Linked DNA regions of Homo sapiens. The protein of the gene in region 1 interacts with the protein of each later gene in a pairwise test. Each region holds a gene or a part of one and is shown on either strand. Other genes may lie near its edges.

Region 1 (3,819 bases):
CTGTAATCCCAGCTACTCACAAGGCTGAGCCAGGAGAACCCGGCTCACCCAGGAGGTAGAAGTTGTGGTGAGCCAAGATGGCACCATTGCATTCCAGCCTAGGCAACAAGAGTGAAACTCCATCTCAAAAAAAAAAAAAAAAAAAAAGAAAAAGAAAATATTTTCTATCAATAATAATATCAGAGGATGCTGATATCTGTTAGGAGCTATTTCAAACACACTATCTTCTTAAACTGTGCATCAGCCAGTATCTTCATAAAGATGAAGAGAAATGAATTTTTTTTTCTCAAACCCAAAAGATAAAATCTTAGGCCACTGTTGGGCATGGTGGCTCACACGTGTAATCCCAGCCCTTCGGGAGGCTGAGATGGGAGGGTCATTTGAGCTCAGGAGTTTGCGACCAGCCTGGGCAATATGGAGAAACCCCGTCTCTACAAAAAGTACAAAAGTTAGCCCAGCATGGTGGTGTGTGCCTGTGGTCCCAGCTACTTGGAGGCTGAGGTGGAAGGACTGCTTGAGCCCCGGAGGCAGAGGTTGCAGCGAGCCGAGATTGTGCCACTGCACTTCAGCCTGGGTGATAGTGGCAGACCCTGTCTCAAAAAAAAAAAAAATCTTAGGCCAGGGTATGTGTGTGTAAACATTCATGCAGTTACTCTAATAAATGCTTGAAATTTAAACTGTAAGATAAAGAAAAGGCTAACAGACAGCATCTGTTAAGAAAAATACAGCTCCTACAAATACACACAGCACATTCAATATAATGATTGCACTTAGGATCAATTATAATGATCAATATATGTATATATAAGGATATGTATATATATATATGGATCAACATAATGATTGCACTTAGGATAAGCCAGGTTTCTCTGTAGAACTGGTAACTGCACAATAACCTAGCCGTTTTGTGCTTTCCAGTTAGATATTTAGCTTATTAATATATGTGTTATGTTACTAAATAAGGAAGTTTATTTTGAATTTACTGTTCACTATTTTGAAGTAAATATCTTTAGTTTTTAAAAATGATACTAAAAACATTACAGAATATATTAATTCTGTCTAATTGAACATGAGTGAACACGGAAATAACACAGATTTCCAAATTTACAATATTGCTATGTGTTGTTGGCATATGCTTGAGAGGAGAAATATTCTAATTTGAGATAAAACTATTTCTACTTCAAACCCCTGTGAAAATTACAATATATAAACAATAAATCATATTCCAGATTTTATGAGAATGAACGACCAAGCGAGATTTCAATAACGCAGAGTCAGCAAAATTTACTACTTTCTCGAGAGGCTACGGAACAGGGTGTGTCTGGAAGAGGTCCCAAAGGAATCCTGAAAGATAAGCCCACAGGCAAATGCGGTATTAATTTCAGCAACCAGACACATACGTTCCCGGCTAGTTAACACCACAATTCAAGCAAGAGGAGGCATCTTTTCTGTGTGGTTTCCACCCACAGCCCTCCCCATCAGGCCGGGTATGCCTGCACTGAAGTCCATGCAGAGACTAGCCTTCTCTGGCACAGGTTGGTGGCCGCCACCCCTGACCCCAGGCTCCCTGAACAGAGCAGCCATAGCCAGGCCACATGGGGCAGATACCCACCCCGGCTCTCAAGTCCATGCCAGCTTGCTTCTCTACACTAACTGACACATCACAGGAGAAGGGATGTGTCTCCTGCCAAAGGTCCTGCCTCTGCTCTGTAGATATAATGCTAGGATAGATACAGTGCTACCATTAGCAACAGGAAGGCGTCACAAGGATTCTGGAACCTTCTGAGGGCAAATCTGCTTTGTCATGACCTCAGTTTCAGAGTTCCAGAACTTATGCCTATGAAAAGTACATGGCTGAAAATACAACCTGAGTTTTGCATAACTTTGTATTTTCATTTTGACAACCAGCATCCTAAGCTGCAGGTGGCAATGAGGGAGGAAGGTGGCAGGTGTGAGGGGTTCTGGCGGTGGGCTGCGCCTGCCGTGTGCAGAAACATGTCTCCCAAAGGCAAAACAAAACGAAACAAATACACAAAAAATCAGGACGTCGGGGGACTGAGGAGGAAGAAACAGTGCTGAAAGGAAGAGGGCAGAAGGCCAGAAGCAGGTCCCTCCTCAGAGGAAGTAAGCTCACGGCCTAGCTCACTGTGGCATGTTTTAAAGGATGGAACACATCCTTTAAAGGATGGCACAGTGGCTCACACCTGTAATCCCAGCACTTTGGGAGGCTGACGTGGGTGGATCACCCGAGATCTGGAATTTGAGACCAGCCTGGCCAACATGGTGAAAGCCTGTCTCTACTAAAAACACAAAAGTTAGCTGGGCGTGGCAGCGCGCGCCTGTAGTTCCAGCTACTCGGAGGCTGAGGCAGGAGAATCACTTGAACCTGGGAGGCGGAGGTTGCAGTGAGCCAAGGTTGTGCCACTGCACTCCAGCCTGGGCAACAGGGTGAGACTCCATCTCAAAACAAACAAACAAACAAACAAACAACAACTAAAAGGATGGAACACAGAAAACTGCAGTAACTGCAGAAGTCTGTGCTGAGAGGAGAGCTGAGAGGTGAGCTGAGAGTCGGCAGGGAAGGTTGAAGAAGGGCAGAGTGTGGAAAGTTTCTTAGGGGAGATGACGGGACGTTCAGGAATGGTCTCTGGGGTTTACTGAGTCACACTCTCTTCACCCAAAGCAGCAGAAGCAGCTGAGCAGGTCACCCCTGCAGCTGCTGCCTAGGAGGAGGGAGTCCTGGGGCTCTACTCCACAGCAGGGAATGATGAGTGACAGGCTTTGGCAGACAGGAAGAAAGAGGTTTCCTTGCACATTTGGGGCAGGTGGGGCAGAGGATCAGAAACGAGGCCTGAAGACTCCAAGTGACAATGACAAAGAAGCTGAGTCAACCTAAATAATCTGGGGACAGTGGGTGCTGGGAGCAGATGAGCAGGCCGAGCCGTAGAAGCTCGTTGAGTGTGGTGCAGTGTTAGTGTGGGACAGGACAGGCTGGGCTATTACACCCACACCTGGTCTCGCCTCCTAACTACGCCCACCTGCTACTGGATACTAGCCAAGCCACTGAATATTCTCTGGTTTCCTAAATCCTAAAGCAAGAGTCTGAACCCTAACCCGGGGAGGGGCACATGGTAGTCCAGGAGGGGCACAGGATTTTCACCATCACCAAGGTGTTAACCAAGCACTTTGTGGCTCTAGAAGTCCTTTTCGGAAGACAGGCTTCTTCTATCATAGTGGAATCCAAGTTCTTTGATAAAAAAAAAAATTGGTGAAAAGTATACAGGAGATTGAGATTGGAAGCATTCACTGACTTCTACTGGTATTTCCAGTTATCATTAGTCAATGACTTCTCCAGGTATAGATACCAGGAAAAGGAAGCTCTTTGGAGCAACGAGCTCTCTAGCGAGACAGGATGCTATAAGGAAACCTGTGCATTTTTCCTGATCTCTTTCCAAGACGCTGAATCCTTTTCAGAAAAACAAACACAAAGGAATCTTACTAAAATGGATCCATGCCACGTGACTACCTTATTGGCAGCCTGAAATCCTTTGGAGTTTAGTAACTATACTCCTTGGACAAGATCTAAAAAGATTGTATGCTGGATTCTCCCCCTCACTAAATTTCAAGACTCTACTAGATCACGTTCCTTTACGCAAAGAATTTATGACACATAGTCTTGCAGGATCTGATACATGTGAGGGCAACACAGAAGTCAACACACAAGGTTGCCCTTAACTTGGCTAGGAGGGAAGGATCCACTACGTGGAACACGATTATTCACAGGTAATCACGATAAAAGATGGTAACAAACAAACTGAG
Region 2 (3,533 bases), on another chromosome or scaffold:
TCTTCCTCCCTCCCTCCCTCCCCACACACCACCTCTTCCTCCCTCCCTCCCTCCCCACACACCACCTCTTCCTCCCTCCCTCCCTCCCCACACACCACCTCTTCCTCCCTCCCTCCCTCCCCACACACCACCTCTTCCTCCCTCCCTCCCTCCCCACACACCACCTCTTCCTCCCTCCCTCCCTCCCCACACACCACCTCTTCCTCCCTCCCTCCCTCCCCACACACCACCTCTTCCTCCCTCCCTCCCCACACACCACCTCTTCCTCCCTCCCTCCCTCCCCACACACCACCTCTTCCTCCCTCCCTCCCTCCCCACACACCACCTCTTCCTCCCTCCCTCCCTCCCCACACACCACCTCTTCCTCCCTCCCTCCCCACACACCACCTCTTCCTCCCTCCCTCCCTCCCCACACACCACCTCTTCCTCCCTCCCTCCCCACACACCACCTCTTCCTCCCTCCCTCCCTCCCCACACACCACCTCTTCCTCCCTCCCTCCCTCCCTCCCCACACACCACCTCTTCCTCCCTCCCTCCCTCCCCACACACCACCTCTTCCTCCCTCCCTCCCTCCCCACACACCACCTCTTCCTCCCTCCCTCCCTCCCTCCCCACACACCACCTCTTCCTCCCTCCCTCCCTCACCACACACCACCTCTTCCCCCCTCCCTCCCTCCCTCCCCACCATCAGAGAACACGGAGTCACTCAGATCAATTTGCAACACATTCATTTTATTATCTTCAGAATGGCAAGCACCCCGCTGGTGAGATCTCTGAGGTCTGGCGGCTGGGCCTGAACTTAGTCGGTGCTCTCGGAGACAGGGGAAAAGCTGGCCATCCACACAGTCAGTGGTTCTTCCACCTCGCTCTCCTGACTCAGTGGTTCTTCCACCTCGCTCTCCTGACTCAGGGGGTCGTGCTGGGTCCCCTCGCTCACTGGCTCCTCCGGCGGCAGCTCGTGCTGAGGGAGCTCCTGGCTGGGCTGGTCGCTGGGGCCGGGTGCCGCTGGCGCGCTCTCCGCCTCAGGTGCCGTCACGGCCGCCATCTTTGTCGCAGCCCCTTTCTTCCCGCGTCTCCCTCTACGAACTGCTTTTCCCTTCTTGGCCACCTTGGTAGTCTGGAAGGACAACAGGGAGATCACAGAAGGGCTCTGGTTTAGGGACGAGGATGGAGGAGGCTGGGAACAGGGACGTGTCCTCAGAAGCGGTGGGGGCCGGGTTGGGGGGTTCTGCCAAGTGACGACAGGAGAGGCTTCTTGTGAGGAAGGAGGCGAGGGGAAGACGAGGAGGAGCTTGGGAGGGTCACTCACCTTCTTCTTCGGGTCACTGGGGCTCGGCTGAGAGGAGGACTTCCTCTTTCCTGCCTCCGTGGCCTTGGCCGGAGGTCCCGAGGCTCTCGGCTTTGGACTCATCTTCCGCAGCTCAACGTCTCGCAACGGTCGACTAACTCCAGGCTGCCTGGCCTCCCTGTATATACCCCTCTCGCGATCCCAGGACGAGACAATCACGCCCCTGAGCTGTGATTGGTCAACACTCCACTACCCAGCCAATGGTAGCCCTGGGCGGGAAGGAAGGCCTTATACGTCACAAAGCACCATCAGGACATGGCGGATGAAGTCGGGGGCGGGGGGGGGGGGTGACATCTAATGAGGAAGGCAGGGTGCTCTAATTGGAGAAAGGGAGATTTGGGTTAGCACCCCTAAAGATAGTTCCCAAACTGACATGTCACCCCTCCTAAACTCCCCATGTTCAATTTTGGCAGATCACGTGGCACGGGAGGATATTTCCGCCACATGTTTCCCCCGGACCTCCCATTCAGTGGTACATTCTGTTCCTCCACACCTGCCATCATTACCCAGTTTCTGTATGACCTATCTAAAATCCCTCCATGCTAACTGGGATGGATGGAGGGCTATACGAAGACGTCAATCATCCCTCTCTCCTACAAATTCCTCTGCTACACCTTGAGGATCATTCACTTCTTGGATGCCATGAAACAACTTTTCCATCTCACATACTTCTCCCAGCATCCACATAGTGCCTCACAATTTTTCATTCTCATGGTTTAAAGCACTGGCTTCCAGAGGTCAAGATCAGCAAACACACTCGCTCAGCTGGGTATCGGTATCAGGCTGGGTTTCGGTATCAGGCTGGGTTCCTCAGAGAAGGAGAAACTAAACCAACAGGATATTGTGTGTGTGTGTGTGTGTGTGTAATATTATATATCATAAATATATATTTACTATCATGTAGTATTTATGAATTATATATATGATACAGTTTATTCTAAGTAATTGGCTCACACATTGACTCAATGTGGGGGTCTAGGAAGCTGAAATATATAGGGCAAGTGAGCAGGCTGGAAACTAAAAGCTTCTGCACAGCCAACAGTCAACAAAATGAAAAGGCAGGCTATGGTTTGGGAGAAGCTATTTGCGAACCATGTATCTAATAATGAGTTAATATCCAAAATATATAAAGAACTCACACAGCTCAATAGCAAATAAATAAATAGTCTGGTTAACAAATAGGCAAAGGACTTGAATAGGCATTTCTAGAAGGAAAACACACAACTGGCCAACAGGTATATGAAAATGTGCTCAACATCGTTAATAATCAGAGAATGCAAATGAAAACCACAATGAACTATCACCTCACTGTTACACGCTGTTGACAGACGTGTAATTGGTACAGCCGTTATAAAAAACAGTGTAATGGTTCCTTGGAAAATCAAAATAGATCTACCATGTGACCCAGCAGTTCATCTGTTAAGTATGTACCACCCCCCAAAAATGAAGTCCACATCTCATATAGATATCTCCAGTACTAACTAATTGTAACTCATTAATTACACAGGAAATTAGAGTTTCTATTTGAAAAGAATGTTTTTTTCACCATTCTGGTATCAAATATTTATTCTAGTCATCTCTTCTTATTTCTTGCTTTGTAATAACCTAGGTACTCACTACCCATTGACAGAACCAACTTATTATTCCAACAAGAAATGAGAAATACTGAGGAGAATGCAATGTGATACTTCTGTCTTCAACCAGTTATTCCAGTTTTATGGAGGATTCTGTATTTAACTCTTACTCAGGTAACTCTAGTTACCAAATCCATAGTACCTAGTCAACAATCCTAAAAAAGTAAGAATACAGAATTGACTCGAATGGTTACTAAACTTTCTATGTTCAACCAGTTTTCCTAGTAATTGCTAGTTGTTTGTTCAACTAGTACTGAGAAGAATTTGTTTATTCCAGGTACTGGCTTCATGTAGTTATCTCTAGTTAATTACTCACTTGGATAAAGTAGATATCTACTATATTAGGTAATATTTCTAACATGAGGTTGGAATTTTGCATTGAGGAAAATGGTTATTGAACTCCCTGGCATAGGCCAGTTATCTTCAGCTTCCTGCAATCAATTACCTGGTCTGGCTAATTCTAGCTATCTTTAGGTTGCTAATTACATGTTTACCACCAGATGTCTGTGGTAATTTATTATTCCAACAAAAAATAGTAGAATGATTAGGAA

The links.
Region 2: the proteins of BEND7 (region 1) and VCX2 interact in a two-hybrid assay, tested with the Homo sapiens proteins (one large-scale study listed by BioGRID).

What each region holds. Positions count from the first base shown.
Region 1 is NC_000010.11:13,501,249-13,505,067, forward strand, and holds part of BEND7 (BEN domain-containing protein 7), read right to left. Parts: intron 2,346-3,819; exon of another isoform or gene 1,613-2,345; intron 1-1,612.
Region 2 is NC_000023.11:8,169,233-8,172,765, forward strand, and holds VCX2 (variable charge X-linked protein 2), read right to left. Parts: upstream 2,036-3,533; 5' UTR 1,875-2,035; intron 1,558-1,874; 5' UTR 1,412-1,557; coding exon 1,310-1,411; intron 1,118-1,309; coding exon 800-1,117; 3' UTR 712-799; downstream 1-711.